Linked DNA regions of Homo sapiens. The protein of the gene in region 5 purifies or fractionates together with the protein of the main gene of each other region. This does not show direct contact. Each region holds a gene or a part of one and is shown on either strand. Other genes may lie near its edges. The genes, in order: AACS, AKR1A1, HAUS2, SEC24A, ARFIP1, FLNB and LYPLA1.

Evidence for each region.
Region 1: the proteins of ARFIP1 (region 5) and AACS fractionate together in Homo sapiens (co-fractionation; one large-scale study listed by BioGRID). This does not show direct contact.
Region 2: the proteins of ARFIP1 (region 5) and AKR1A1 fractionate together in Homo sapiens (co-fractionation; one large-scale study listed by BioGRID). This does not show direct contact.
Region 3: the proteins of ARFIP1 (region 5) and HAUS2 purify together in Homo sapiens (affinity purification with mass spectrometry; one large-scale study listed by BioGRID and IntAct). This does not show direct contact.
Region 4: the proteins of ARFIP1 (region 5) and SEC24A fractionate together in Homo sapiens (co-fractionation; one large-scale study listed by BioGRID). This does not show direct contact.
Region 6: the proteins of ARFIP1 (region 5) and FLNB fractionate together in Homo sapiens (co-fractionation; one large-scale study listed by BioGRID). This does not show direct contact.
Region 7: the proteins of ARFIP1 (region 5) and LYPLA1 fractionate together in Homo sapiens (co-fractionation; one large-scale study listed by BioGRID). This does not show direct contact.

Annotation. Positions count from the first base shown.
Region 1 is NC_000012.12:125,068,360-125,072,913, reverse strand, and holds part of AACS (acetoacetyl-CoA synthetase), read right to left. Parts: intron 1-4,554.
Region 2 is NC_000001.11:45,560,417-45,564,970, reverse strand, and holds part of AKR1A1 (aldo-keto reductase family 1 member A1), read right to left. Parts: intron 3,183-4,554; 5' UTR 3,177-3,182; coding exon 3,093-3,176; intron 1-3,092. UniProt on the Homo sapiens protein: Catalyzes the NADPH-dependent reduction of a wide variety of carbonyl-containing compounds to their corresponding alcohols.
Region 3 is NC_000015.10:42,567,567-42,570,949, reverse strand, and holds the end of HAUS2 (HAUS augmin-like complex subunit 2), read right to left. Parts: 3' UTR 956-3,383; downstream 1-955.
Region 4 is NC_000005.10:134,675,750-134,680,303, reverse strand, and holds part of SEC24A (protein transport protein Sec24A), read right to left. Parts: intron 4,282-4,554; coding exon 4,179-4,281; intron 703-4,178; coding exon 576-702; intron 1-575. UniProt on the Homo sapiens protein: Component of the coat protein complex II (COPII) which promotes the formation of transport vesicles from the endoplasmic reticulum (ER).
Region 5 is NC_000004.12:152,786,011-152,790,564, reverse strand, and holds part of ARFIP1 (arfaptin-1), read right to left. Parts: intron 1-4,554. UniProt on the Homo sapiens protein: Plays a role in controlling biogenesis of secretory granules at the trans-Golgi network. Mechanistically, binds ARF-GTP at the neck of a growing secretory granule precursor and forms a protective scaffold.
Region 6 is NC_000003.12:58,164,868-58,169,421, forward strand, and holds part of FLNB (filamin-B), read left to right. Parts: exon of another isoform or gene 1-1,248; intron 1,249-3,572; coding exon 3,573-3,791; intron 3,792-4,554. UniProt on the Homo sapiens protein: Connects cell membrane constituents to the actin cytoskeleton. May promote orthogonal branching of actin filaments and links actin filaments to membrane glycoproteins. Anchors various transmembrane proteins to the actin cytoskeleton.
Region 7 is NC_000008.11:54,056,251-54,060,804, forward strand, and holds part of LYPLA1 (acyl-protein thioesterase 1), read right to left. Parts: intron 1-4,554. UniProt on the Homo sapiens protein: Acts as an acyl-protein thioesterase. Hydrolyzes fatty acids from S-acylated cysteine residues in proteins such as trimeric G alpha proteins or HRAS.

The DNA.
Region 1 (4,554 bases), on a different chromosome or scaffold from region 5:
TTACATGGTAAAAGGTCTCCCTCCTTTTATTCCACAACAGTCTAACTTTTATGCCCAGGGGAGTTCCCCCTTGCAGATTCCACTCAGTTATACTCAAAATAACTTTTCCCCACCATCAAGACATGAGCTGGAAACTTGACACAAAGAGATGTATTTAACTCCTAAAGGAAATGTGACTTCACTGAAAAACTAACCCCAGCCTCGCTGAGGACTCTTTACCCTCTCAACTGCCTAGGATCCAAGTGGATTGGCCACAGTGAGCCAATCAGTCCTTAGGGACAGGAGAATTTTATCCTATCGGGGACCAAGGGAAGCCATACAGTGCTTCTGTTTCAAAGCACAGCCTTGCTAGGGCTCCAGGAAGGCAGAGACTGGCAAGGATATAATAACATAACAGGAAGATGGCCAATGGGGTATCAGGAATGGGGGAAAAGGTATAATACAACCGCTGAGCTGAATTATCTCACTGCCATCAGTGAAGTCAAGCTTGCCCATCCTCACTGTTCCCAGCCCCGGTGGGGAAGACAAGAAGAGACACGATGCTCCCTGCCCTTCAGCAGTGTCCCCTCTGACTGTGGTGTCCAGGAATGGTCCTCAGTTATGTTGGACAAGGAGGGATCACAAGAACTGGGGCAGGGACAGCTGAGAGGATCGCTTTAGCCCAGAAGCTCAAGTCTGCAGTGAGCTATGATCCCACCACTGCACTCCAGCCTGGGTGGGCGACAGAGTGAGACCCCATTTAAAAAAAAAAAAAAAGCGCCAGGAGCGGTGGCTCACGCCTGTAATCCCAACCCTTTGGGAGGCCGAGATGGGTGGATTGCTTGAGGTCAGGAGTTTGAGACCAGCCTGACCAACATGGTGAAATCCCATCTCTACTAAATACAAAAAATTAGCTAGGTGTGGTGGTGCATGCCTATAATCCCAGCTACCTGGCAGGCTGAGGCAGGAGAATCTCTTGAACACAGGAGGTAGAGGTTGCAGTGAGCCGAGATCGTGCCACTGCACTCCAGCCTGGGCAACAAGAGCGAAACTCTGTCAACAACAACAACCAAAAAAAAGTATCACAAAAGTGCATTCGCCAACAGCATCACTAAGGAAGGCAGACGCGGCCAGCCCCATGAATCTGGAAGGATGCAGCCACAATGGCCTCTTGACACCACAAGGACCCTGGGAGACGACAGCAAAAGCGGCCGACTTCAGGTGGAAACTTTCCCACTGTCAGCAACTCAGCCCTCTCATCAAATGCGACTCTTCAGACACACTCTTCTGCTCCCACGCTCCCCGCCTCTACCAGGGAGGACGCTGCAACCGCAAGCCCAGGTCTGATTCAGCCTGTGCAAGCTGCTCACACTTAAAAGCCTGTTGTTGCTTTTTTATGGGCTACTTCGTGAATTTGCATCTCCACCTTGTGCAGGGATCATGCAAATTTTTCTACCTAGTATATGTGCTGCCAAAGCAAGCACATAAATCCATTTTTAAATGAAACTCCGGCTTCTCCTGAGAAAAGTGAGTACCTGACTGTGGTCATCAGCCAGTAATTGTCACCTCCAGGCATTCATGGCCCTCTATGGTCCCCTTTCCAACCTGAGAGGGCTGATCTGTGTCACCAACAGGGTATTGTGGAAGTGGCCAAACGTGAGTTCCAAGGCCAGGTTGTAACGGTCACTGCAGCCACATGGCTCTCTTGGGTCACCTGCTCCAGGAGAAGCCAGTGAGGATGCTCACGCAGTCCTAGGTGGCATATGGCAGATGTCTCCTGCACTACCTTGCTGCCACCACCAGCACTAACTTACCGCCATGTGAGTGAGCTCTTGGGGACGGGTGCGTTCCCACTGCAGCCCCTCAGGGACCCTGAGCCAGAACCACCCAACTAGCCACTCCCCAGTCCTGACCCACAGAAACTCAGAGGTGATAAAGGTTTATTCTTGTTTTAAGTCGCTAACTTTTGGGCTGATTTGTCACCAGCAATAGGTAACAAATGCATTGTCCACACCACACAGTGAGGATTAGCTAGAACTGGGAACAGCTGCCTCATCGGGCCCTCAGGCAAATGCCAGAGGCAACAACTAACCAGACGGCAGACTACAGCTCCACTGCCTACAGCTACAAAGTCTTAACTGAGACTTCGTGCCTTGGTTTGTTCAGCTGTGAAATGGGGCTACTACTACCACCTACTTGGTAGGATTACTGAGAGGATTACATTAGTTGATACATATCAGGTGCCAGATGGAGCCCGACATACAGAGAGAGCTCACTGAATAGTAACTATTATTATCTTGGGCACCTGTCTGGTCCCTACAGGCTTCTGAATTTTCAGCCCTTCTTCCTCTCCACCTACGAGAATCTTGGCCAGCCCACACCTTCAAATCTTAGCTGAAGATTTTATCTGCCTCTTTTTTATTATTCATTTTCTTAGAGACAGGATCTTACTCTTCTGCCCAGGCTGGAGTGCAGTGGCATGATCATAGCTCACTGCAGCCTCTAACTCCTGGACTCAAGCAATCCTCTTGCCCCTGCTGCCCAAGTAGCTGAGATTACAGGCTATCCGCCCTTCTAAACCGCATTCTCTGCTAAACCCAGCGCACTGCTGTTGTGCTGGACCCCTGTTAACTCCAATAGATGGCACCAGATTCCAGAGATCTGGAAGCAGTGAGCCAGACACAGGGTTTATTGGAAACTTACCTACAGGGATGGTCTGGGGGCAGCAGGCTGGACAGGAGAACCGCAACCGCTTGTAAAATGCACGCAGTTTATACAGCACCTTCACTCAGCACCCTCCCCTAGCAACTTCCACCTGGTAACCTTTACTTAATCCAAAAGAAAGGGCCTCAATCCCCCTGTAGAGCTTGCATTCCATGGGATGGGCCGGGGGTTCAGATGTTCCTCATAGACAAGGAATAAATCCGGGTTGGCCACTCCTGGATTCCTTAGCTTGGAACTCTGAACACACATTCTTCTGAAGTTACAGCCGTCAGCTGCATCTGTCATACAACAGTGCAGTACTCAGAATGTCAACACCAATGCCCCATTCGTGGAATGCCCAGCGTCCACTAACGTGTGGCACTATCTTCACATGAGCTCTCTCCCCTAGCCACCCGGAGCTATTTGAGAACAGGGCCCAAGCCTTCTATTTGTTGGCAAACTCCATCCCAGCTGCTTGCACAGAGAGCCGACGTGCAGCTTGTGGTACACAGAAGGACACTTGGCACAGTCCTCCAAAAGAGCATGCCTTTGAAACTGGTGCCACCTCCCTGCCTCCTAATTACAGAGGGCTAGTACATGCAGCATGTCTGCCAGAGCTTGCTAGAGGCCTGGAATCACAGGCACATATGCCAGGCTGGAGCTGCAGCCGACCCCAAGGAAGTCTGCATCAGAGGACCCCAGAGCCCCACGTGGATGTGCAGGGAGTGCACAGGTGGCTTCAGCTGGAAGCAGTGACAAGAACCAACCAACCTGTGGTTATGGCAGTGGAAAAGAGGGTGGGTAACCCTACCAGAGCCTCCCAAAATGCAGGGATAGAAACGTCCTGCCAACCTTGGTCTGGGAAGACGGGCTCACGGAGAGGCGGCCGGAGTGGGGAATGCCCCTGCCTTCCTCCCTGAAGCCTGCAGGGCGGGAGCAAGGCTGCTGAGGATGTGTGCCTTGCTCTCTACTGACATCCAGTCCAAAGCATGGCCCCATACTGTATACAGGCTACAAGTGAGCCTCTGCTGGGACACAGAGGAGAGGATACGAGTTCGCGGGCACTGTCTTTAAGCAATAAGAATGCTCACAGCCGGGCGCGGTGGCTCACGCCTGTAATCCCAGCACTTTGGGAGGTCGAGGTGGGTGGATCACAAGGTCAGGAGTTCGAGACCAGCCTGGCCAATATGGTGAAACCCCCGTGTCTACTAAAAATACAAAAAAATTAGCCGGGCTTGGTGTTGCATGCCTGTAATCCCAGCTAATCAGGAGGCTGAGGCAGGAGAACTGCTTGAACCCGGGAGGCGGAGGTTGCAGTAAGCCGAGATCGCGCCACCACACTCCAGCCTGGGTGACAGAGCGAGACTCCATCTCAAAAAAAAAAAAAAGAATGCTCACAAATACACAAAAAGGCAGGGCAGAATGAAAGCCCAAATTACATGTGCTTGGAGAGAAGAGGGAAGGCAGAAATATTCAAAGAGAATAATCAAAAAGAAGATAGCATTTGAGCTGGATCTTCAAGCAAAGCCCAAAGCCTCCAGGGCCAGGAATATGAAAGGGGAGAGTCAGGTGGAAATCACCTTCAAGAGTGGTAAGAGGAGAAAAGGACAAAAACAGTGCTAAATGCCCTCCTCCAAACTAAAGGGAGGGGCCTCACTCAGCTCCGGACAATGCTGCCACGTTGGGAATGCAGACCCAGCATGACAGGCCTTGGGGATCTCAGAGGTTGGAAAGCTTGCTTTTCATATATGGTCTCCCAACTTTTATTTATTTGAGACAGAGTCTTACTCTGTCGCCCAGGCTGCAGTGCAGTGGCGAGATCTCGGCTCACTGCGACCTCCACCTCCTGGGCTCCAGCAACCCTCCCACCTT
Region 2 (4,554 bases), on a different chromosome or scaffold from region 5:
GGTGCCTGTAGTCCCAGCTACTCAGGAGGCTGAGGCAGGAGAATGGTGTGAACCTAGGAGGCGGAGCTTGCAGTGAGGCGAGATTGCGCCACTGCACTCCAGCCTGGGCGACAGAGCAAGACTCCATCTCAAAAATAAAATTAAATAAATAAATAAATAAATAAAAATTTAAAAATTTTCAAAAATAAATAATTTTTTTTTTCAATCAGAAGACAGATGGATAAATAGAGAAAAGAAGTATAGACCATGGAAACAAGTTCCAGGTTCTAAGGAGCTGGTTAGAGAAACACAGGAAAAAATTCCTAGGCCAAGGACATACAGGGAGTTGTGTAGACAGACTCTGGGAACTCTGGGAGCACAGGCCAGCAAAAGAGGTTAGAAGGGGGAAAAGATTAAGGAAGGCAGATAAGTAGGCTGAAAGCTGGAGGCAGATAAGTGGGCTAAAAGCTGGACCCAGAACTCCCTAATGAGAGAGAAGAAAACAGGCATCAGATAGAAGGATGGGTCAGTTAATTTTGCTAAAATCCAGACTGGAAACACGGCATCAGCAGCAGAAACAAGGGTACCCGGCCCTAGACACAAAGCACCCAAAGCTCTTGTTGTGGGTGCCTGACATAGTATTCAAGATCCCCACCCGGGTGCCGACGTACTTCCCCTAACATCTGACCCCTGCTGTTCCATGCCCCGCCTTGGCCTTGTCTGTGGCCCCCAACCCTCTGCCTTGACCTAGCTCCTGGACTTCTCCGAGGCTGTGAGAAGTGCCTGCCTAAAGCACAGGGACCCTGGCTCCAGGCTCCTTGGCAGCTATAGGAAAGAAAGCAAAAGGGAAAAGAGACACAGGTCATCCAAGCACACCACAAACATCAGTCTAAATCCCAGATAGAAGAATCTGTTCTCTCTGCTGGGGCTTCTCTGAAACTTAATCCCCAAACTTCTCTTCACTCTGACTCAAGATTTCCAAGGAAGAAGGAAGAAGCCCTGGGGAAATGCCCCATTCCAGGCAGGAGCCAAATCTCATAGCTACGTCCACCCTGAGAGAGCAGGTCCATATTCCCAGACTCCCCTCAGCTGGGATGGTCTACACCAGGGGTCAGTCAATTATCAACTTTAACAGTTCTTGAGTTAAGAACTACATTTATATTTTTAAGTGGTTACTTATTTATTTTATTATTATTTTTCTTGGGACGCAGTTTTGCTCTTGTTGCCCAGGCTGGAGTGCAATGGCACGATCTCGGCTCACTGCAACCTCCGCCTCCCGGATTCAAGTGATTCTCCTGCCTCAGACTCCTGAGTAGCTGGGATTACAGGCATGCACCACCACGCCTGGCTAATTTTGCATTTTTAGTAGAGATGAGGTTTCTCCGTGTTGGTCAGGCTGGTCTCGAACTCCCAACCTCAGGTGATCCGCCTGCCTCAGCCTCCCAAAGTGCTGGGATTACAGGCATGAGCCACCACACCCAGCTTAAGTGGTTACATATTAAAAGGTCACATGAGTGTATAATCACCTCCATCTGTAACTTGTCCAATAGAATCTAATTGTTTTTTAACTTTTTTTCCTTAATTTTTCCCCCTAGACGGAGTCTTGCTCTGTTGCCTAGGCTGGAGTGCAGTGGCGTAATTTTGGCTCACTGCAACCTCTGCCTCCCAGGTTCAAGCAATTCTAATGCCTCAGCCTCCCAAGTAGCTGGGATTACAGGTGTGTGCCACCACGCCTGGCTAATTTTTGTATTTTTAGTAGAGACGGGGTTTCACCACGTTGGCCAAGCTGGTCTCGAACTCCTGACCTTGTGATCCACCTGCCTTGGCCTCCCAAAGTGCTGGGATTATAGGCGTGAGCCACAGTGTCCAGCCTACCTTTTTTTTTTTTAAGATGGTCTCGCTCTGTCCAGGCTGGAGTGCAGTGGCATGATCATAGGTCACTGCAGCCTCGACTTCCAGGGCTCCAGCAATCCCCCTAACTCAGTCTCTCAAGTAGCTGGGACCACAGGCGCATTCGAATTTTTTTAATTTTTTGTAGAGACGGGGGTCTCACTGTGTTGCCCAGTCTGGTCTCAAATTCCTGGGCTCAAGCAATCTTCCTGCCTTGGCGTCCCAAAGTGCTGGGATTACAGGTATGAGCCACCACACTTGGCCCTATCTTGTTCTTTAAAAAATAGTTTGTGGCCGGGCAAGGTGGCTCACATCTGTAATCCCAGCACTTTGGGAGGCCAAGGCAGGTGGATCTCCTGAGGTCAGGAGTTCAAGACCAGCCTTGCCAACATGGTAAAACCCTGTCTCTACTAAAAATACAAAAATTAGCCAAGTGTGGTGGCTCATGCCTGTAGCCCCAGCTACTCGGGAGGCTGAGGCAGGAGAATCACTTGAACCCATGAGGCAGAGGTTGCAGTGAGCCAAGATCACGCCACTGCACTCCAGCCTGGGGAACAGAGTGAGACTCGGTTTCAAAAAAAAAAAAAAGTTTGCTGGGCCCGTGTGTTAGTGTGTGCCTGTGGTCCCAGCTACTCAGGAGGCTGAGGTGGGAGGGTCACTTGAGCCCAGGAGGTCAAGGCTGCCGTGAGCCAAGATTGTGCCACTGCACTCCAGCCTGGGCAACAGAGCGAGACCCTGTCTCGAGTAAAAAAAAAAAAAAAAAAAAAAAAATTTGCTGACCTTTGGTCTATACAATATACAATTCACCTAGTTATTCTTCAAACCTTGACACCTGCTATGTGCCTAATTCTGGACTGAGCAGTAGGGAGAGGCTGAGCCCTCAAAGAACCCAGTGTGGGAGAGGAGACATGATCACAGCACAGGGTGATAACTGCCATATTAGGGGTCATAGCATAGGGATGGGCACAGAGGGGCCCCATGTTTGCCACAGCACTCAGTGCAGATCCAGTTAGAGAAAGATGTCCTTCCTATGCCCCCAGCCCTGCTGGGCCCCTCAGCCCACTCTCTGAGTCAGCTGGGGAAGCCCAGGATGTATAATTGGTGTCTTCTCTTATCTCTTCCCACTGGCTCATCCCCGCTGGAAGGGGAGTATGGGGGTGGGGCTGCTAGGAAAATGCAGGCAGAGGCTCAACAAGTTTCTTTTTTCTTCCCCCATCCCTCACCTGACCAGGCTCACTCTTCCAGGTACCCAGACCAATCAGAGGCATCTTCTGCCCAGTGTGCAGTAGAACACAGGAAGCCGCCATTGCCCCCTGAAACACAGATGGGAAGAGAATGGTGTTGGGGTTAGTGCTGTTGTTCAGGTCTCAGATTTCCACTGTCAAGAATACTGCAAAGCGCCAAGTGCAGTGGCTCACACCTGTAATCCCAGCACTTTGGGAGGCTGAGGCGGGCAGATCACCTGAGGTCAAGAGTTCAAGACCAGTTGGGTCAACATGGTAAAACCCCATCTCTACTAAAAATACAAAAATTATCTAGGCATGGTGGCGCGCACCTGTAGTCCCAGCTGCTCGGGGGGCTGAGGCACAAGAATCACTTGAACCTGGGAGGTGGAGGTTGCAGTTAGCTGAGATTGCGCCACTGCACTCCAGCCTGGGTGACAGAGTAAGACTCTGTCTCACTACTACAAAGCATGGGCCGGGAAGAGGGGACAGATGTGTAGGACAAACACGTGGTTATATATGTGCCTGTGAGCAAAGGCAGCAGAGACAGGGTGCCCAAAACCAACCATGGCCAGTAGCTCCTGGACAAACACTAACCAGACCACCAGCCTGGCTGCCCTTCTCTGTGGCAGGCTAAAGATCTCTGTTAAAGAACTGCACTATCTAAAAACAAAAGCAGGGTGGCCACACAGAAGCACCCAGTCTTGACTAAATAAGGTCTCAAGCCAGTGTAAGGCAGGCAAAGGCCATTATGAGAGAGAGACCAGGTAACTGAATAGGCCCAGGAAGGGGCCACTTCTCTGAGAATGAAATAAATGTTCCCAGGAGGTTGTCAGAACTACAGAGATTCTCGGCCAGGCACGGTGGCTCACGCCTGTAATCCCAGCACTTTGGGAGGCCGAGGCGGGTGGATCACGAGGTCAGGAGATCGAGACCATCCTGGCTAACTCAGTGAAAGACCATCTCTACTAAAAATACAAAAAATTAGCCAGGCGTGGTGGCGGGTGCCTGTAGTCCCAGCTACCTGGGAGGCTGAGGCAGGAGAATCACTTGAACCCAGGAGGCGGAGGTTGCAGTGAGCTTAGATTGCACCACTGCACTCCAGCCTGGGCAACAGAGCGAGACTTTGTCTCAAAAAAAAAAAAAAAAAAAAGAACTGCAGAGATTCTCCAAGTACCTTTCACAGAGGTCTGGTCAGCCATGCTGGTAGGCCCGAGTGGGCTCCTGCAAGGGAGGTAAAGGGAGTCCTAAAAAAGGAACTCTTTTTTAGACTCAGGGTCTGGTTCTGTCTCCTAGGTTGGAGAACAGTGGTGTGATCATGGCTCACTGCAGCCTTGAACTCCTAAGCTCAAGTGATATTCCTGCCTCACCCTTCCAAGTAGCTGGGACTACAGGCCTGTGCCAGCACACCTGGATGTTTTTAAACTTTTTTAGAGATGGTTCTGGCTAGGTTGCCCAGGCT
Region 3 (3,383 bases), on a different chromosome or scaffold from region 5:
TAATGCATAATTTTTTTAGTAAACTCAATTAGTGGATTCCCCAAATTGTGAGATAAATCTTTTATGTAAATTCATGTGTTTTACAGATATGTGAAGAAATCCCACAATACACTAATTACAGTCTTATTAAAATCTCAACTCTATTATAGATTTTGCATGTCAAGAAATCTTTTAGGTTCTGCTATTCCTCAGACTGTTCCTGACTTCATTGAGGGTTTCAGAGGATAAATCAGGGGTCAGACTGGTAGAGTCACATAGAGAAAGAAAGAAAATAAGAAAAATGCTAGGAAAACCAGGCAGCATCTCAATTCCTCCAGAATGGTCTTCACAAACTGGCATCACTGTTATGCTGGCAATAAATTTGCAAATCTCACACACCTCTTCTAGTGTAAGTAGGAAACACAGACATTCAGGCTAGGTGCAAGGGGCTAACACCTGTAATCCCAGCACTTTGGGAGGCCAAGATTGCTTGAACCCAGGAGTTCAAGACCAGCCTGGGCAACACGACGAGACCTCATCTCAACAAAAAAATTTAAAAGTTAGCTGGGTGTGGTGGGGCACAGTTGTAGTCCCAGCTACTTGGGAGGCTGAGGTGGAAGGATCCATTGAGCCCAGGAGGTTCAGAGTGCAGTGGGCTATGATTGTGCCACTGCACTCCAGCCTGGGTGAGAGCAAGACCATCTAAAAAACAAGAACAACAACAACAACAAAAAAAGGCATGCAGAGCTAATTTTTTTTTAATATCCACACATCTAAAAGTTGAATAATTAAAGAAAAATTAATCAGCACTGATTGACTCTGGAAGAGTATTAAATTAGCTTTCTCTTTGAAGTAGACCTCAGGCTTAACTTACCTCAAGCTCTTTTGATTCTGAGAGCCTATATGCCTATACTGTATAAGTTAAACAGTGCATCAGTCCTTTCTATCACTTTAAATTCAGACTAGGACTAAAAAATTTTAGTTAGAAATTACAAGTTTATTTTTATATTTTGAAAAAGGCATAATAGAAAACAAAAATAAACAACCAGGCATATCAATATTTGTGACATACACATACACACAAAAATGAATATAGGAAATAACACGAAGAAAAAGCATAGTATGTTTTGAAACCAACGTGGGGTATGAACAGATTTTTGATGAAATACAACTAAAGGTTTTAAGTGTCTATGTAATGTTCGAGATATTACGATCACTCTTATCCTACTAGCAAAAATTAGCAAACTAGGCTTTAAAACATGATTCCTGTTGTTTTAGCAGGATTTATTTTGGTAATGATCCTGCTTCCTTATAAACAACTACTTATCATTGTTGAAGTCTTCTTGTGTTAAGGAGTACAATGAGGCCAGGCGCAGTGGCTAACACCTGTACTCCCAGCACTTTCGGAGGCTGAGGCGGGAGGGTCGTTTGAACCCAGGAGTTCAAGACCAGCCTCAACAACATGGCAAAACTCTGTCTCTACAGAAAATACAAAAATTAGCCAGGCGTGGTGGCGCGTGCCTATAGTCCCAGCTACTTGGGAGGCTGAGGTGGGAGGATCACTTGAGCCTGAGAGGTCAAGGCTGCAGTGAGGTCAAGATTGGGCCACACCACACTCTCAGCAACCTGGGTGACAGAGTGAGATCCTGTCTTTAAAAAAAAAAAAAAAAAAAGGAAAGAAAAGAACAAAACAAAAAACAAAACTGATGTACATGTTTTAAAGCAAAATAGAACCCCAAGTCTAAAAGTAAAATAAGCCAAGGTTAGTTACAATACTGATTAAAAAGAGTATATCCTGAGGCAGTTGTTAGTATATCACTCTCTATTATATGCACAATAACCTCTGATAGGTAAAATATCTGAGCATTTTGCAAGGTAAACCTCCAAAGTTATACCACAGTGTGCCTTTTTCTTTGCTGTTTCTTCTTTGCCTATTCCTACAGCTACCAGTAAACACTTAGGAACTGCTTTGTATGCCAGGGTCTCCAAGACTACCTCCAGGTTCCATGATTTGCTAGGAGAATTCACAAGACTCAGCATATCATCACACAGCTATGATTTATTACAGCAAAAGCATATGAAGCAAAACAGCAAAGAGAAAAGGTACAGAGGCAAAGTCTGGGGGAAACCAGGTATAAGCTTCCAGAGTCCTCTAACAGTGGAGTCACACATATCTGTTGTTTCATTCCACCAGCAACTGAATTGTGACAACATGTGAGAAATGTTGTTTACCAGGGAAACTTGTTAGAGATACAGTGCCCAGGGTTTTTACTGGGGGCTGGTCACGTAGGTACCTTCTACCTACCATGTACCAAAATTCTAGACTCCCAGGAAGAAAGCAGGTTTTCAGCACAAACCACAGGTTAGCTACCATGAACGACTCTTTTCAGTGAGTGGAGCCCTCCTGTTAAGGTTTAAATATGTCCCCCAAAGTTCAAGTGTTGGAAATTTAATTGACATTGTAAAAGTGTTATGAGACCTTTAAAAAGTAATTAGGTAAGGAGGGCTTTGCCCTCATTAATGAATTAGTGCTGCTATCTTGGGAGTGGGCTCATGATAAAAGGCTAAGTTTAGACCCATATATCTTTCTCATGCTCACTTGCCATGTGGTGCCTTCTGCCATGGCAAGACCCTCACTAGATGCTGGCACCATGTTCTTGGACTGCCTAGCCTCCACACCTGTCAACCAAATAAACTTCTGTTCATTATAAAATACTTAGTTTGTGTAATTCTGTTATGACAGCAGAACAGACTAAGATACCTTCTGATATCTAAGTTCCCAGATGCAACAGCTGAGGACAAACCTTATAATCAGGCCTTTCAAAGGATAAGTCAGGCTGGCTGTGTTACTCTTTTCTGCATACTTAGTGACATTCCCACAGGAATAATCATCATAGACATTTTCAGATTCAAGAAGACCCTTCTAATTCAGAAACACCTTTTTTTTTTTTTTTTAAGACAGAGTCTTGCTCTGTTGCCCAGGCTAGAGTGCGGTGGCACGATCTGGGCTCACTGCAACCTCTGCCTCCTGGGTTCAAGTGATTCTCCTGCCTCAGCCTCCTGAGTAGCTGGGATTACAGGCACATGCTACCATGCCTGGCTAATTTTTGTATTTTTTATTTTTTTGGAGATGGAGTCTTGCTCCATCACCCAGGTTGGAGTGCAGAGGCACGATCTTGGCTTACTGCAACCTCTGCCTCCTGGGTTCAAGCGATTATTCTGCCTCAGCCTCCCAAGTAGCTGGGATTACAGGCGTCCACCACCATGCCCGGTTAATTTTTTATATTTCTACCAGAGATGGGGTTTCACCATGTTGTCAAGGCTGGTCTCAAACTCCTGACCTCAGGTGATCCACCCATCTGGGTCGGCCTCCCAAAGTGTTGGGATTACAGGTGTGAGCCACT
Region 4 (4,554 bases), on a different chromosome or scaffold from region 5:
TCTTTCAAATAGACACTGTGGATACTGGCATACCCACTTCCTTCTCTAATACTAACAGAACCCTGTTGATTACATTATAGTCCTCAAATAAAAACTGTGACATAGTTATTGAGAGAAATCTCCTCCTCCTCAATTACTGAGAAAACTACATTCAACTAACCTTCTAGCACTGCCTACTTCCCTTCATTCAGCAGTGAATGAATTGGGCAGCTATTCTGTGGACTTATTTTCTTTCACCCTAGAGAAAAGGCGTGGGACAATTTCTAAATAAAAATGTTTCTTAAATTCCTGGCTTAAGTAATACCATGAAATATACCACTTATTATATACCCAATACAATGTAAAAATGGGATATCCATGTAATACTATCATTATTTTTTGCTTAAAAAATAAATAATTAAATTTATTTATAAATATAAACGCACAGAAAAAAGTTACCTGTAGTTTTCTCTGAGTGGAAGGATTGACTAGAGGTAAATAAAAGGGTTTTTTTTTTTTAACTGTGCATTTGTATCATCTGATTTCCCTACAATGCAAGTAGAAACGTTTAAATGTTTCAAAAAAGCATCCCATACCATCATTGACTCGATAACATAAGTTACACTTCCATCTCCTTTGATCAAGAAAGCTGACGAAAGGATTGATGTACGTCCTGCATGAACGGCATCTCACAATTGTACTGGAGGTAACCACAGGCAATTGCTGGAAAAAAAAAAACAGAATTAAATTTTTAAAGGCAAAAATCATCATGTTGAAAACATAAGCATGAATCCATCCTGTCTAAATAACTGTTGGGATATTATCATTTTAGAGAAAACTTAGAGTACAAGATGTATCTAAACTGCCATACACAAAAACCATGTAGTTGAAATGTATTAATTTTAAACCCTACTATTTTGCTCCAAGACCATTCTCATTAAAAGTTGTCTTAAAAAAAAAAATTATTGGCTGGGGACAGTGGCTCACATGTGTAACTCCAGCACTTTGGGAGCCAAGGCGGAAGGATTGCTTGAGGCCAGGAGTTTGAGACCGGCCTGGGCAACATAGTGAAACATGACCCTCTCAAAAGATTTAAAAAATTAGCCCAGTGTGGTGAGCTGGGTTGAAGTGGGAGCATCACTTGAGCCTGGGAGGTCAAGGCTGCAGTGAGCCATGACTGAGCCACTGCACTCCAACATGGGCAACAGAGCAAGACCCAGTCTCAAAAAATAAAATAAAATAAAAATGTAAAAACCATTTTTTTCCTCATTAAACACTCATATTGCAAAACCAAAATAGCAGGCCAGGCACAGTGGCTAACACCTATGTCTAAAATCCCAGCACTCTGGTGGGAGGCCAAGGCAGGAAGATTACTTGAGGCCAGGAGTTTGAGACCAACCTGGGCAAGAAAGTAAGACCCTGTCTCTATTTTAAAAATAAAAATAGGCTGGGCGTGGTGGCTCATGCCTGTAATCCCAGCACTTTGGGAGGCCAAGGCGGGTGGAACGCGAGGTCAGGAGTTCAAGACCAGCCTGGCCAACGTGGTGAAACCTCGTCTATACTAAAAATACAAAAATTAGCTAGGCGTAGTGGCAGGTGCCTATAATCCCAGCTACTCAGGAGGCTGAGGCAGGAGAATTGCTTCAACCCTGGGAGGCAGAGGTTGCAGTGAGCCAAGATTACACCACTGTACTCCAGCCTGGGCAACAGAGCAAGACTCCATCTTGGAAATAAATTAAAAAAATATATATATATATATCCCAGTGCTTTGGAAGGCCAAAGCAGGAGGATCACTTGAGGCTGGGAGGTAGAGACCAACCTGAGCAACACAGCAACAGCCCATCTCTACCAAAAAAAAAGAGTTTTTAAATAAATAAATAATAAGTTAAAAAAATAAAACCAAGATGGTAAATTTACAATGTACTTTTGGCATAAATGGCAAAGAAAAAAAAATCAACATTCTAAAATATATGACCAATGAAACTATTACAAAGTTTGTTGATGTTACATTAAGAAGCTTACTTAGTTCTCAACTATAATAAAGTAAGGTGAGGTTAATTTAAATAACCAGTTAAACTTTGGAATTACACTCCTAGTTAAAGTTTATCCTACATATTAAAAGTTCTAAAGTCTTAGCTGGGTATAGTGGCCAATGCCTACAGTACCACTTACTCTGTCTGGAGGCTGAGGCAGGAGGACTGCTTGAGCCCAAGAGTTCAAGGCTGCAGTGAGCTATGATCATGGAACTGCACTCTAACCTGGGTGACAACGAGAGACCCGGTCTCTAATAAATAAATAAATAAATAACAGTAAATACGTGGGAAGGGTCTTTGTAAGACTATCAGATTTGGGGAGATTTGTTTTGATTTACCAGAAACCCTGAGACAGGTGAACACTGATCAACTTAACTGAGAGCCAGTGCCTTGGACAACAAAGTGACATAGCATCTCATCTTTAAAGAAAGGTTTTATTTATCTTTTTTTTTTTTTTTGAGACAGTCTCACTCTATTGCCCAGACTGGAGTACAGTGTGGGATCTTGGCTCACTGCAACCTCCACCTCCCGGGTTCAAGCGATTCCCTTGCCTCAGCCTCCCCAGTAGCTGGGATTATAGGTGTGCATCACCATGCTTGGCTAAATTTTCTATTTCTGGTAGAGACGAGTTTCACCACGTTGGCCAGGCTGGTCTTGAATTCCTGACCTCAGGTGATCTGCCCGCCTCAGCCTCCCAAAGTGCTAGGATTACAGGTGTGAGCCACTGCACCTGGCCTTTATTTTTTTTTTTTAAGATAAGGATCTCATACCCAATCCTGGGCAATGCAGTTAAGACTCTGCTTCTTAAAAAAAAAAAAAAAAATCAATACAGGCAATAAAATTATATCACCACCAAAAAAATCCTATCACCAAAAGTAGTGTGTTTTGGGAAAGTCAGCAATCCTCAAGAGTATGTGGCCACAGAGCTTTAGGACAAAGGTAGATCAGTTTCTTTTTTCTTCTGAAATAACTTTTCTTTTTGGATACAGGGTCTCACTCTGCCACCCAGGCTGGAGTGCAGTAGTACAATCATGTCTCACTGCAGCCTCAACCTCCTGGGCTCAAGTGATCCTCCCACCTTAGCCTCCCGAGTAGCCAGGACTAAGCTGGTCTTGAACTCATAGACCCAAGCAATTCTCCCACCTTGGCCTCCAAAAGTGCTGGGATTACAGGCCATGAGCCACCATGTCTGGCTTAAAACAACTTTTTAAAATAACAAATTTTACTGCAAGGATGGCAGAACGGGGAGACTAGGGTAAAGTACTTTAATGGGTAAATAATTCACAACCTATTAAAATAGTATGATTCATTTATTTAGTTTCTCTCAGTACCTCTATTCTATTCAGTACTTTTTGAATTTTCCAGCAATATACTTACTTTACCTAGTATTTGAAAGTGTTTAGTAATAAAATTTTTGGTTGAATTGTAAGTAATCTGTCAATCATCGACTTCCTAAAGACAGATCAAACAAATTCTATATGTAATTCTTGCATCATTGCAGAAAATTTTCATCACCAAGATAATTTTGCACAAAAGACATTTACCTTCACTAAAGAGGCCGGGTGTAGTGGCTCAGGCCTATAAATCCCAGCACTTTGGGAGGTGGGCAGATCACTTGAGGTCAGTTCGAGACCAGTCTGGCCAACATGGTGAAACACCATCTCTACTAAAAATAAAAAAATTAGCTGGGTGTGGTGGCAGATGCCTATAATGCCAGCTACTTAGGAAGCTGAGGCAAGAGAATTGCCCGAACCTGGGAGGCGGAGATTGCGGTGAGCCGAGATCTCGCCACTACACTCCAGCCTGGGCGACAGTGAGACCCAGTCTCAGAAAAAAAAAAAAAAAAAAAAAAAGAGCCGGGCGCAGAGGCTCACGCCTGTAATTCCAGCACTTTGGGAGGCCAAGGCAGGTGGATCACGAGGTCAGGAGTTCAAGACCAGCCTGGCCAAGATGGTGAAACCCCCTCTCTACTAAAAATACAAAAATTAGCCAGGCACGGTGGCAGGCACCTGTAATCCCAGCTACTAGGGAGGCTGAGGCAGGAAAATCACTTGAACATGGAGGGCAGAGGTTGCAATAAGCTGAGACTGCGTCACTGCACTCCAGCCTGGGCGACAGAGGGAGACTCCGTCTCAAAAAAAAAAAAAGAAAAGAAAAGAAACATACCACTAAGTCTTTGAAAGGATGAAGCAGCAGCCCCAAAGGAAGTTTGGCTTTATTCAATAAGGCCTGCGTCTGAGGAATGCTAGTCAGCGTGCATCGAAATAACCTATATCAAAGTAAAAAGTATGTATCAGTTGCTGCTATGATTATTTTTGAAGAAAACAACAACAAAGATTTAAAAGGTATACATTTTAATACTGGATCAGATTACAGATGAAATATTTCAATAGAGTCTCAAAATTTTATCCCATTTAAATATTTAAATCTAAGTCCTATGCAGAAATAGAGTGGATGGTTATCCTATAACTAAAATATAGTCTCTTTTTGGCTTGTGTGTAAAACAGTCTAAACTATCAAATGACTTATTTTTTGTTTTGTA
Region 5 (4,554 bases):
TCTGCAGAAGTCTTTTTAAATTTCCCCACTCAGACTGTGTTACAGAGAAACCAATGAGAAGTAAAATGATAAGACTCTCAAAACTAAATTACTCTCTGAAAAGAAAACTAGCTGTAAATTAACTCTAAATTATTCAGTATGCTGTGGCCTCATTCTTCATAGATGGCTCAGTTCCAGAACATTAGCAGTGAAGCCAACCAAGAACCAAGAGAGGTGGTCATCTCTGTTGTTGTAATTGATTTCATTCAAAGATCAAACAGGTTACCTGTTATTTGGTATTATCTGAACTGCTTTTGTCCCTTAGCAATGGATAATTGGAGAGTTACTTTTTGTTACTAAATTCCCAAAACCATGTAAAATAAACCCCTTCAATATTCACAGGTAATTTTTTTAATGAAAAATGCTCACAGGAAATAAACTGAAAATATAGCTTAACATATATATAGTTACATATAGAAATATTTATAGATATGTGTATATACATGAGTTAGTGTACACACATATATTTCCTTACTCTGTCCACTGGGAGGGCCTAGAAGCAATGACATTCCAACAGCAATGAGCAAACATAGTGCCCAGATATTGGTTTCTAATACTATTCTCCAATAGAAGGAATCAGTGCTCCTTGGAGAAAAGGCTGATTCTAGGCCTGTGGTAGGTAATACACAAGGTGAGCCTAGAGCATTTTGTAATACCAGAAAGTTAAAAGTGCTCAAAAACAAACAAACAAACAAAACAAGAACAAAAGTCTCACAATGACAGGAGTATGTCAAAGGAATACAGGAACCAACTAAAAGAGCTCCCAGTGGCCACAGCTGAAACAATTTGAGCAACAAAGTAATAAAGTACTACTGGATTTACCCTTAAGTATAAAATAAATATCCATGAGTCAGACTGATATAAATAAACGACTGAAAGGGGAGAATAGACAAAAAACTCTTATAGAAGATTTTTCAAAAATTTATGTAGACACTTCACCCTTAAAGAGGTAAAGCATAATTCCCCAATTCCCAATTGTGTGCTTCACAGAGAGACTTTCTTCTAAAAAGTACAATATACAAAAGGAGGGGGAAAACAGAGTAACTTTACAGTGGACAAAACTGATGAACATTATCTCAAGCCAAGTAGTCAAGGTTAATATCAATGGTACTGTCATATTAATAGTTTGTATTCTTGGCCAGGTACAGTGGCTCACGCCTGTAATCCCAACACTTTGGGAGGCTGAGGTGTGTGGATCACCTGAGGTCAGGAGTTCAAGACCAGCCTGGCCAACATGGTGAAACCTCTCTCTACTAAAAATACAAAAATTAGCCGGGCATGGTGGCATGTACCTGTAGACCCAGCTACTTGGGAGGCTGAGACAGGAAAATCGCTTGAACCCAGGAGGTGGAGGTTGCAGTGAGCCGAGATTGCGTTACTGCACTCCAGCCTGGGCAACAGAGTGAGACTCTACCTCAAAAAAAAAAAAAAAAAAAAAAAAAAAAGTCTGTATTCTTGATATGATGTGATGGGAATGGCACTTTACTTCTGTGATCTTCCTCCTAGAAACATATCACCCAGTCTAATGAGAAAAACAGCAGACAAGTCCCAACTGAGGGACAGTCTACAAAATACCTGACCAGGCAGTAATCTTCAAAACTATCAACTTGTCATCAAAAACAAGGAAATCTGAGAAACTGTCAAAATGAAAGGATACATGACCACTAAAGGTAATATGCTATCCTAGATGGGATCCTTGAACAGAAAAAAAAAAAAAAAAAAAAGACATTGGGGAAAAGTGAGGTAATCTGAATAAAATATGGACTTTAATAATTACGTGCCAATATTGGTTAATTGTGACAAATGTACTATGCTAATGTAGTATGTTTTTGTTTTTGTTTTTTTGAGATGGAGTCTCGCTCTGTCATCCAGGATGGAGTACCGTGGCATAATCTCTGCTCACTGCAACCTCCGCCTCCTGGGCTCAAGTAATCCTCCCACCTCAGCCTCCCAAGTAGCTGAGATCACAGATGGGCACCACCATGCCCAGCTAATTTTTTGTATTTTTGGTAGAGATGGGGTTTCACCATGTTGCCCAGGCTGGTCTTGAACTCCTGAGCTGAAGCAATCCACCTGCCTTGACCTCCCAAAGTGCTAGGATTACTGGCATGAGCCACTGTGCACAGCCTATCTTATAATAGGGGAAAGTGGGTATGGGAAGCTCTATTCTATCTTCACAGTAATTCTGTAAAACTAAAACCATCCAAAAATAAAAGGGTCTATTACAAAATAGTGTAAGAATACTGTGCTATATTGCTATATTTTATATAGCTACTAATAACACATTTTTTGTTTTGAGACGGAGTCTTGCTGTCGCCCAGGCTGGAGTGCAGAGGCACGATCTCGGCTCACTGCAACCTCTGCCTCCCAGGTTCAAACGATCTTCCACCTCAACCTCCCAAGTAGCTGGAATTACAGGTGCAGGTCACCACGCCCAGCTAATCTGTATATGTATATTTTTTAGTAGAGACAGGGTTTCACCATGTTGGCCAGGCTGGTCTTGAACTCCCAACCTCAAGTGATCCACCCACCTCGGCCACCCAAAGTGCTGGGATTACAGGCGTGAGCCACTGTGCCCGGCCTAATAATTTATTTCCATACACTTGAAAGAAATAGTCAAACTGAAAATTTAATTACAGGTTGATTATCCCTTTTCCAAAATGTTTGAGACTAGAAATGTTTTGGATTTCAGATTTTTTTGGCATTTGGAATATTTCCATATGCATAATGAGGTATCTTCAGGAAGGGACCCAAGTGTAAACACAAAATTCATTTACATTTCATATACACCTTATACACATAGCTTGAAGGTAATTTTATATAATACTTTTAATAATTTTTTGCATGAAACAAAGTTTGTATACACTGTACCATCCAAAAGCAAAGGTGTCACTATCTCAGCCACTCATGTGGACAGTCTGTGGTTGTTTGACATCACTATCATTCCCGTCTCTGAATTTATATGCTACGTATAACCAATCATTTCTTACACATACACATGGCATTGTATTGCCCTTTGCGGGCATGCTTGCGTAGGTGCATCTGGCTGTGTGAGGAAAAGATATATGGCAGCTGAAGGGGGCTAGGCAGGTCTTTTTTCTCTTGGAGAAACTGTTGTACACCTGCATTCTGACTTTGATTCATCACATAAAGTTGGGTGTAGAATTATGTACTTGTAGCATCATGTTGGGCTCAAAAAAGTTTTGAATTTTGCAGCATTTTGGATTTCAAGTTTTTGGATTAGGAATGTTCAAACTGTACTACCATTTTAACACTATTTTTATAAAAATTCATATTCAAATTCTTGTATTACAAAACTCGATGAACTGAAATCCTTAATACCATTAACTTGGAAATTTAATGAGTCAAATTTAGGTGTCAGGTACTGAGCTAGGTTCTAGGGATTCAAAAATGAGCCAAAAAAGAAAACAAGATATGGACCTTACCTTCATGAAGTTTATAGGCCACTGAACAGAAAGAAAATCTTACAGTCACATGAATAAATGTAAATTGCAAACTGCGGGAAATGTATGATGCTATTACCTTAATGTGGGAAGTGAGCATATTCTCTAAGGATGCAAAACTTCAGCTGAGGTGTGAAGGATGACTAGGAACTAACAAGTGAAATGAAATGAAAGTAAAGAAAGAATGGTCCAGACAGAGAGAAAAGCATGTACAAAAGCCTTGCAAAAATGGCAGGGAGCAAGGTGCATACAAAGGACTAAAGAAGGCCAGCATGGTTGAACTGGAGAGTTATGCAGAACATGGTACAAGATGAGTCTGGAGAGCTAAAGGCTGTTAAGCAGTTTTATTTTGATCCTAGAAGCAATGGAAAGCCATAAAAGCACTGGGGGAGGAAGAAGGAGAGTGATAATCCAATGTGTGTTTCAAAATAAATCACTGTGCCTTCAAGATGGGTAATGAATTAGAGAGGACAGATAAGAATGGAGGCTATTGTAAAAGTTTCAGGCAAGATGAAGTGGCAGTAGTGGAAACAGGAAGAAATAGAAAAATTCAAGAGTCATGTAGAAAGTAAGACTTTAAAAACTTGTTCAATCATTGGATCTATCAGGGAGAGGGAATTAAGGATCACTTCTAGTTTTCTGGATTTTACAATGAAAAGATAATTGTGTCATTCACTGAAAAAAGGAACAAAGAAAGAACCAACGTTGTGCAGTTTTGTAGGGAGGGAAGGGGAAATCAGTTTCATTTTAGACATACTGGATTTGAGATACCTTTAAGATATTCAAGAAAGGATGTCAACAAGACAGCAAGACATACAGATCTACAGCTCAAAGCAGACAGAAAACACTCATGCCCTTAATGAAGCTGACATCTTTATCCTAGAAAAGCAGCTAACTATAATCCCCAAATATCCAAGAAAAATGTTAGACTTAGACTTTGACCATCTGGATTTAGTTAAAACAAAAAGCTGAGAGAGAACATGGCAATAACATTTCATCAGCTAAAACAAAAACTGCTAGGCACCATGGGTAGCAGATTTTTAAACTCGTG
Region 6 (4,554 bases), on a different chromosome or scaffold from region 5:
CAGAACCAGGAATCAGTCTACATCCGTGACCTCAGAGCCTATGCGCTGAACCCCCGAGCTTGGCCCCCTCTCTAAGTGGCTGGCTCACCCAGAGGCAGTGACTGCATCCCCAGCCCACTTTGGGGATGTCCTAAACCAGGACCCCTGTCCTCCCAGCCACTCAGGAGTACTTTCCAGGCAGCAGTGCTGGCACTTGGGCCCTGACAAGGTACTCACCTTTGAGGGCCCAGGTGGGGTCCTCTCGGCACTTGGAGCGCGTGGCAGGCTTCAGGCCAGGCCTCACAGCAGCTGCTGGGGTCTCCCACACTGGCCAGGAAGCATCTCACCCTCCTGCTGGCTCATGCCGCTGTGCCTGGGCCCTCTCCCATTTCCTTTTGGCTGTTCGCACACCTTTTTGGGAGCTTGGGTTTCAGGCTGTGCTCTGCAAGTGCTGGACGCTGCTGAGAGAAGGAGTTGCTCTTGCAGGGAAGCTCCTAGCCAGGAGGGGAGAGGTACAGAACCGCCTGCTTCAAACCCTGTGTAAATATTGCTCTTGTCACAGGGAAGGCGCCTTGTTTTTCCAGCCCTCCTGCTCCCAAGCCTTTCCCTAAATATCCATTCTGAGATTACACAGCTGCAGTGTGCATGGAATGAAAAGGTATCTGTGCTTGGCCGCCAGAGCGCCCAGTATCCTGACCTTCTGAACAAAGCAAACCTCCCTCTGTTTTTAATGGGTGAGTTTGCTGTATCTCTTGGCTCAAGCTTTAAATGGTCCATTCTGTAGATTTTGGAGTAGGGGAATGTGGAGAATTTGGGGCGGGACCCTGCTGGAGGCGGCTTGAGAGGCTGGGAGATAGACCAGGGAGCTCCAGATTCTTTGGAGCCGCTGAGCAATTTTCCTAATGAAATGGTCCAGGAACCCCAGTGTGCTCGGGGTATACCAGAAGGGCCTCCTTCCTTAACTGCCTTGAAGAACAAGCAGTGCTGCGTTTAACATGCATTAAACTCACAGGAACTGAGCTGGACATATTTGAGGGGGTGGGGGAAGACCGCCACGCCCAGAGATGTTTTGTGGTGTCAGATACAGGTTATAGCTAGAGGCAGTGGTGAGAGACTTCTGCTTGTGGATTTTTTTCCTTCCATCTTCTCTCAGGTAAGTGCTTTAGCTCCAAGTTGGACAGACTTTATGTTTAAATCCCAGTTCTGCTGGTCCCCAGCTGTGTGACTCCAGATGAATTATCTGACTTCACTGTGCCTCTGCTTCCTTTCCTGTAAAACAGGATTAATAACAGGACCCACCTAATAGGCTTGTTTGGAGCTGTAGAGGAGGTAACAGCCAAGTAGTAGCTCTTGTCCCATAACCCCTGCTTTCTCTTTTCCCACCTCGTCTTCCCTGCCCTTTTGGGCCCTCACAGTCAAGATGAACTGATTTTTGGTTGGTCAAAATATTGCATTAGGGCCAAATGGGTGCGGTGGCTCATGCCTGTAATCAAAGCACTTTGGAAGGCCAAGGCAGAAAGATTGTTTGAGGCCAAGAGTTTGAGACCAGCCTGGGTGACATAGTAAAACTCCATCTCTACCAAAAAAAAAAATTTTTAAAGACGAACTTAGGAATGAAACAGCTTGTTAAAAAATGGTGGAACTTTCCCCTGCAGCCACATCATTTCAACTTCACTTTAAAAATATCTTTTTGGCCTGGCACAGTGGCTCACACCTGTAATCCCAGCACTTTGGGAGGTGGAGGTGGGAGGATCACTTGAGCCTAGGAGTTTGAGACCAGCCCAGGCAACACAGCAAAACCCCATCTCTACAAAAAAATTTAAAAATTAGCCAGGCGTGGTGGTGCATGCCTGAAGTCCCAGCTACTTTGGAGGCTGAGGCAGGAGGATGGCTTGAGCCTGGAAGATTGACGCTGTGGTGAGCTGTGATCATGCCACCGTACTCCAGCCTGGGCAACAGAGGAAGACTTTATCTAAAAAAAAAAATATTAGTAATAAGGCCGGGTGCGTTGGCTCATGCCTGTAATCCTAGCACTTTGGGAGACCAAGGTGGGCAGATCACTTGAGGTCAGGAGCTCAAGACCAGCCTGGCCAACATGGTGAGACCCCATCTCTACTAAAGAAATACAAAAATTAGCTGGGCATGGTGGCGAGTGCCTGTAATCCCAGCTAATCAGGAAGCTGAAGCAGGAGAATCGCTTGAACCTGGGAGGCGGAGGTTGCAATAAGCCAAGATCATGGTACTGCACTCCAGCCTGGGCAACAGAGCGAGACTCTATCTCAATCAATCAATCAATAAAATATCTTTCCTTATCATCACCTTACAGCTGCTTCCTGGATGGACACACTGTCTCCTTGTTGCTCACCTCCCGCTTCTTCCCTACGTAGCCCCAGGCCTCAGAGCTGCTGCTTGAGGGGCTTCTTGGCTGCACAGATTAGATACCATGATGAGGTTGAGATAGTGTTGGGGGTGGACCTTGGGGCAGGAGCCTCAAGAGCTTCCAGGAACAGCTGGGTTGTGTTTGAGAGTTGCACGATAGCAGCTCTTTTGTTTTTATTGATATCCAGAACAATAATTCTTTCTCTGGACTAGGAGCTATAATTAAACCAAAATATTTCCCAGCTGGGGCAGTGTCTAGGGCTCTGGCAGAAGCATAGCCCTGCATGGGGATGCTATGCCAGGCATGCCCCATAGAGGGCACTGTAGCAGGCATGCGCCAGACCTGATGACTGAAGGAGGCTCTCCCTGGGCCAGCTAAGTTGTCTCAGGGCTGCAGTTAGGGGATCTGAGGCAGCTCCACTGCCCATCCAGGGGTCAAGAGATGAGCCTGGCACCAGAGCCATGCAGACATGGTTCAAACCCGGCTCTACCACTTTCTGGTTGTGTAGCGTGACTGGCCCCCTCCCTGAGCCGCAGAGTCATTTGTGAAGCAGGAATCACGGAAAGGATTCCATACCACATGCGTAAATGGTGCTGTGCACAGGACCTGGAGCCGGAGTGGGGTACGCATGCCCCGTCAGCGGGAGCTGCTGTTCTGTTCCTGTGCTTGTTGCTGGAATTCACGGCAAAGTGGGTGGGCTGGCAGGTCACAGTGGCTGCACCCGGTCTGCAGCACAGTGCCTGGGGTGAGGGCTGAGGAGGAAGGGAGGAGATGCTTGGCCTCCCTGGCTTCTCCAAGTCTACCCGGAGAAGAAAGGACAGTCAGAGGGGCCCACGCCTCCCCCACACCCCTGGAGGGAGAGCTGGACTCTGGTGGCTGAAGCAGCACTTCAGGCTCACAGTGTGACTCAGGCTTCTTGCCCTCAGCCACAATGGCTCATGCCCAGAGGAGAGAACAGGGTGTCCAGGCTGTTGGTGCTTGTGGGCGAAATGTCAGCCATGCTCCTCCTGCCTTGGCCTAGAAAAGGGAGCCCCCACCCCGCAGGGCCTGAGGTTCTCTCTGCCAGAAGTTCAGAGCTAGTGCCAGTGGGTTCCCATGCCACCAGGGTGAGCCCTCTGTAAGGGGATCTATGTGTGTCCCTCACCACGGCCTCAGTGCTCCCAGGAAAGCCCTCCAAGTCATCAACACAGCATTTTCTATTCCTTTCTCCCAGGTATCCAGTCGGAATTCTTTATTAACACCACCCGAGCAGGTCCAGGGACATTATCCGTCACCATCGAAGGCCCATCCAAGGTTAAAATGGATTGCCAGGAAACACCTGAAGGGTACAAAGTCATGTACACCCCCATGGCTCCTGGTAACTACCTGATCAGCGTCAAATACGGTGGGCCCAACCACATCGTGGGCAGTCCCTTCAAGGCCAAGGTGACAGGTAACGAACAACCACCTTCGGAGTTACTCTCCCTTCCTGGGGAGCTGGTTGTGTCAGATCAATCATAGTGGAAACTATGGATGGTTTTAGATGTGTTAAAGCTACTTTGAACTTTGAATGTCAGTAAATAGTATGAGATGTCAGAGGGCAGTGTTTGAAACTTACAAAAGTCCACAGAGTGGAGCCGTGCAGAAGTTGAGAAAGCATGTTAGGATGTTAGGTGGTTTTCTATCTCTAACAGGAAAGAATACATATTGAAATCTTACGTATTTGTTTAGATCAGGGTCTGAAAAATCCCCTGATTTCTAATTTTCACTTGAAAAATAATCAAAAAGTTTTCCTATACTTATAAAAATGTGTCTCCTCCAAAACACTGGAAAAAATACCAAACTATGAAAACCACTTCACAGCCACCACCCAAGGTAACCACCATAAACACTGTAGTAAATCCCTTCCACACGTCATGATTCACTGTTACATAAAGAATGTAGGTTCATCGCAGGAAAATTAGAAAATTCAGATAGAAAAATCATCCTTTCTCATCCACAGAATCATTTTTTGATATTTCATTATATGTCATCCCAAACTTTTACACTGCTTATACATAGACTATTTTATGTCAATAGAAAGATGTGAATTCCACAGGCACATCTTTGGTGGGTAGGGGGTGGGGGGATTGGGAGGGTCCTTGGCCTTGTCAGCCAAGGCCAGACTCATCCATTTGCCCAGAAAGCCAGATCCTAGTTGTATGGGGGTGGGATCC
Region 7 (4,554 bases), on a different chromosome or scaffold from region 5:
AGAAGAATAAAATTAGACCCTATCTCTTGCTGTATACAAAAATCAAATCACAATAAACACTTAAATCTAAGATCTCAAACTATGAAACTACTACGAGAAAAAATTGGGGAAAATCTCCAGGACATTGGTCTGGGCAAAAATTTCTTGAGAAATACCCCACAAGCATATCAACCAAAGCAAAAATGGACAAATGGGATCACATCAAGTTAAAAAGCTTCTGCACAGCAAAGGATACAATCAACAAAGTGAGGAGACAACCCACAGAATGGGAGAAAATATTTGGAAACTACCCATCTGAGAAGGGATTAATAACCAGAATATATAAGGAGCTTTAACAACTCTATAGGAAAAAAATCTAATAATCTGATCAAAAAATGGGCCAGGCCGGGCACAGTGGCTCATGCCTGCAATCCCAGCACTTTGGGAGACCGAGGAGGGTGGGTTACGAGGTCAAGTGATCAAGACCATCCTGCCCAACGTGGTGAAACCCCGTATCTACTACAGATTAAAAAATTAGCTGGGCATGGTGGTGCGCACCTGTAGTCGCAGCTACTTGGGAGGCTGAGGCAGGAGAATCACTTGAACTCGGGAGACGGAGGTTGCAGTGAGCCAAGATTGCACCACTGCACCCCAGCCTGGCGAAAGAGCAAGACTCTGTCTCAAAACAAACAAGAACAAAAAAAACGGGCCAAAGATCTGAATAGACATTTCCGAAAAGATGACATAAAAATGGCAAACAGGCATATGAAAAGGTGCCCAACATCACTGATCGCCAGCAAAATGCAAATCAAAACTACAATGAAATATCGTCTCACCCCAGTTAAAATGGTTTTTATTCAAAAGACAGTTAATAGCAAATGCTGGCAAGGATGTGGAGAAAAGAGAACCCTCATACACTGTTGGTGGGAATGTAAATTAGTACAACTACTATGGGGAACAGTTTGGAGGTTCCTCAAATAACTAAAAATTGAGCTACCATATGAACCAGCAATCCCACTGGATATATACTCAAAAGAAAGTATCTTTCTTTTAACTATATTTGGGTATATATCTTTTGGGATATATACCCAAAAGAAAGGAAATCAGTATATTGAAGAGATATCTGTACTCCCATGTTTGTTGTAGCACTGTTCCCAATAGCCAAGATTTGGAAGTAACCTATGTGTCCATCAACAGATGACTGGATGAAGAAAATGTGGTACATATGCACAATGAAGTACTATTCAGCCATAAAAAAAGAATGAGATCCAGTCATTTGCAACAACACAAGTGGAACTGGAGATCATTATGTTAAGGGAAATAAGCCAGACACAGAAAGACAAACATTGCATGTTCTCACTTTTTTGTGGGATCTAAAACTAACTGAACTAACAGACACAGACAGTAGTAGAAGTATGGTTATCAGAGGCTGGAAGGGTAGAAGGGGGCTGGAGGTGAGGTGTAGCTAGTTAATGGGTACAAAAAAAATAGAATAAGACCTACCATTTGACAGTACAATAGGGTGACTATAGTCAATAGTAACTTAGTGTACATTTTAAAATAACTTACAAGAGTGTAAATGGATTCTTTGTAACTCAAAGGATAAACGCTTGAGGGGATGGACACCCCATTCTCCATGATGTGCTTATTTCACATTGCATCCCTGTATCAAAACATCTCACGTACATATAAATATGTACACCTATGTACTCACAAAAATTGAAAATAAAAAAATAAAATTTTAATTAAAACTTCAATAATTTCCCATTAAATATTTTGTTAACAACAGTTCTTTCTCTCATCAAGAGATGGATTTTTAAAAAATTAATAGTTAATTCTGCTCATATATATTCCATGTTTCTCTCTTCAATGAACCATAGGCATTTGTACCTAAAAGTTGTCATTTTAAAATTGTACGTAGTTAAGTGTTTAAAATTGTACGTAGTTAAGTGTTGTACGTAGTTAAGTTAATGGTTTAAAAAGTGTTTAAAACCATTCATTCTATTGTTTTTTAAAAAAAATCACAGAATTGGCCAGGCACAGTGGCTCACGCCTGTAATCCCAGCACTTTGGAAGGCTGAGGCCAGCAGATCAACTTGAGGCCAGGAGTTTGAGACCAGCCTGGCCAACATGGTGAAACACCGTCTGTACTAAAAATACAAAACGTAGCCGGGCATGGTGGCACAGGCCTGTAGTCCTAGCTACTTGGGAGGCTGAGACAGGAGAATAACTTGAACCCAGGAGGTGGAGGTTGCAGTGAGCTGAGATTGCGCCACTGCACTCCAGCCTGAGCAAGAGAGCAAGACTCCATCTCAAAAACAAACAAAAAAAAACCAGAATAAATCTCTTTTGCTCGCTCACACTCTCTCTCTGTGTCTCTGTCTCTGTCTCTCTCTCTCTCTCTCTCAAAACAGGGTCTCACTCTGTTGCTGACCTCTCAGGCTCAAGCAATCCTCCCACCTCAGACTCTCAAGCAGCTGAGGGGGCCACAGACATGCGCCACCACGCCCAGCTAATTTTGTTTTTTTTTTTGTAGCGACTCTTGCCCAGGCTGGTTTTGAACCCCTGGGCTCAAGTGATCCTCCTGCCTCAGCCTCTCAAAGTGCTAGGATTACAGGTATGAGCAACATCCCTTGGCCTCAATCACCTTTCACCTAAGGGTAAGGGCACTATGTACCCCCAACTATGTAACCTGAGCACTGTCTTCTTTGTTCAGTAGCACATTCTCTTTTGTTTTTTCTTTCCTGGCTGAGTCTGATTCTAATTTTCTCTGAGAGGAATTTTCAGAGAGGAAAGAAGTAACAAGTATTTCATAGGCCAACTCTATTGTTAGGACAGAATCTTTCATTCTGGACCTCATGAGGCCCACGTATCTTCTTCACAGGGCCCAGGCCCTCCCTGTTTTCCATAGCATCTAACACTTACCCTCATACTTTTGTCATCTATTATTTTCAGACAAAATCCCAACTCTAGGATTCTAACTCTAATCTACTTTTTAATGATCCCATAAGTCAGTGTTGTTGGTTTGACATTCCCAAATATCTCACATCTTTTGAATGTATTTTCCCTGTTTTTTTTTTTTTTTTGAGACGGAGTCTCGCTCTGTTGCCCAGGCCGGACTGCGGACTGCAGTGGCGCAATCTCGGCTCACTGCAAGCTCCGCTTCCCGGGTTCACGCCATTCTCCTGCCTCAGCCTCCCGAGTAGCTGGGACTACAGGCGCCCGCCACCGCGCCCGGCTAATTTTTTGTATTTTTAGTAGAGACGGGGTTTCACCTTGTTAGCCAGGATGGTCTCGATCTCCTGACCTCATGATCCACCCGCCTCGGCCTCCCAAAGTGCTGGGATTACAGGCGTGAGCCACCGCGCCCGGCCATTTTCCCTGTTTTAAAGACCTTAAAGAGTTCTTTTAAAACAAAAGGGCTGCGCTCAGTGGCTCATGCCTGTAATCCCAGTACTTTTGGGGAGGATCACCTGAGGGCAAGAGTTTCCCACCAGCCTGGACAACATAATGAGAATTCATCTCTACAAAACAGTTTAAAAATTAGCCAGGCATGGTGGCACATGCCTGTAGTCCCAGCTACTCAGAAGCTGAGGCGGGAGAGTTGCTGGAGACCAGGAATTTGAGGCTGCAGTGAGATATGATCACCAACTGTACTCTAACCTGGGCGACAGTCTCTAAGTAACTATGTAAATAAAAAATTACCAAAAAGCAAAACAATTCACAGCCAGCCTGCCTTGCCATTGCTGCCCACACCCACCTACACCCACCCACACTCAAGAGTCACCAACCAGATTTTCCTGAAGGCAATCCCAGTCCTCACATTATTATACTTGTCAATATTTCAGTACACATATGTAAAAGAAAAGCACATTCCTGTGCACCTGTGCATTTCTTTCTTTCTTTTTTTCCTGAGACGGAGTTTCACTCTTGTTGCCCAGGCTGGAGTGCAACAGTGGGATCTCAGCTCACTGTAGCCTCTGCCTCCCAGGTTCAAACAATTCTCCTGGCTCAGCCTCCCAAGTAGCTGGGATTACGGGCAGGCGCTACCATGCCCGGCTAATTTTGTATTTATAATAGAGACGGGGTTTCTCCATGTTGGTCAGCCTGATCTCGAACTCTCGACCTCAGGCGATCCGCCTGCCTCAGCCTCCCAAAGTGCTGGGATTACAGGTGTGAGCCACCGTGCCCGGCCTCCTGTGCATTTGTTAAAAATAGACACGTCCCAGTAAGTTAGTATTCTGTTTCTCCCTCCGAACAACTAGAATTACCATAATCATAAAGGAGATGGACTCCTAACCAGAGACCAGGCTTTCGAGGTTTTGTAAAGCAGAGCTAATACTTCACAGCGGTGTCAAATGAGGTGCCCTGTAAGAAACACCTAGCTTGTAAACAGTTATGTGCTCAATCAGTGGCACGTGTTATTATTACCGCACTAACATTAACAACTTTTTTCTTCCTTTTTTTTTTTTTTTTTTTTTGAGACACAGTCTCCCTCTGTCACCCAGGCTGGAGTGCAATGGCACAACCTCAGCTCACTGCAACCTCCACCTACTGGGTTCAAGCGATTCTCCT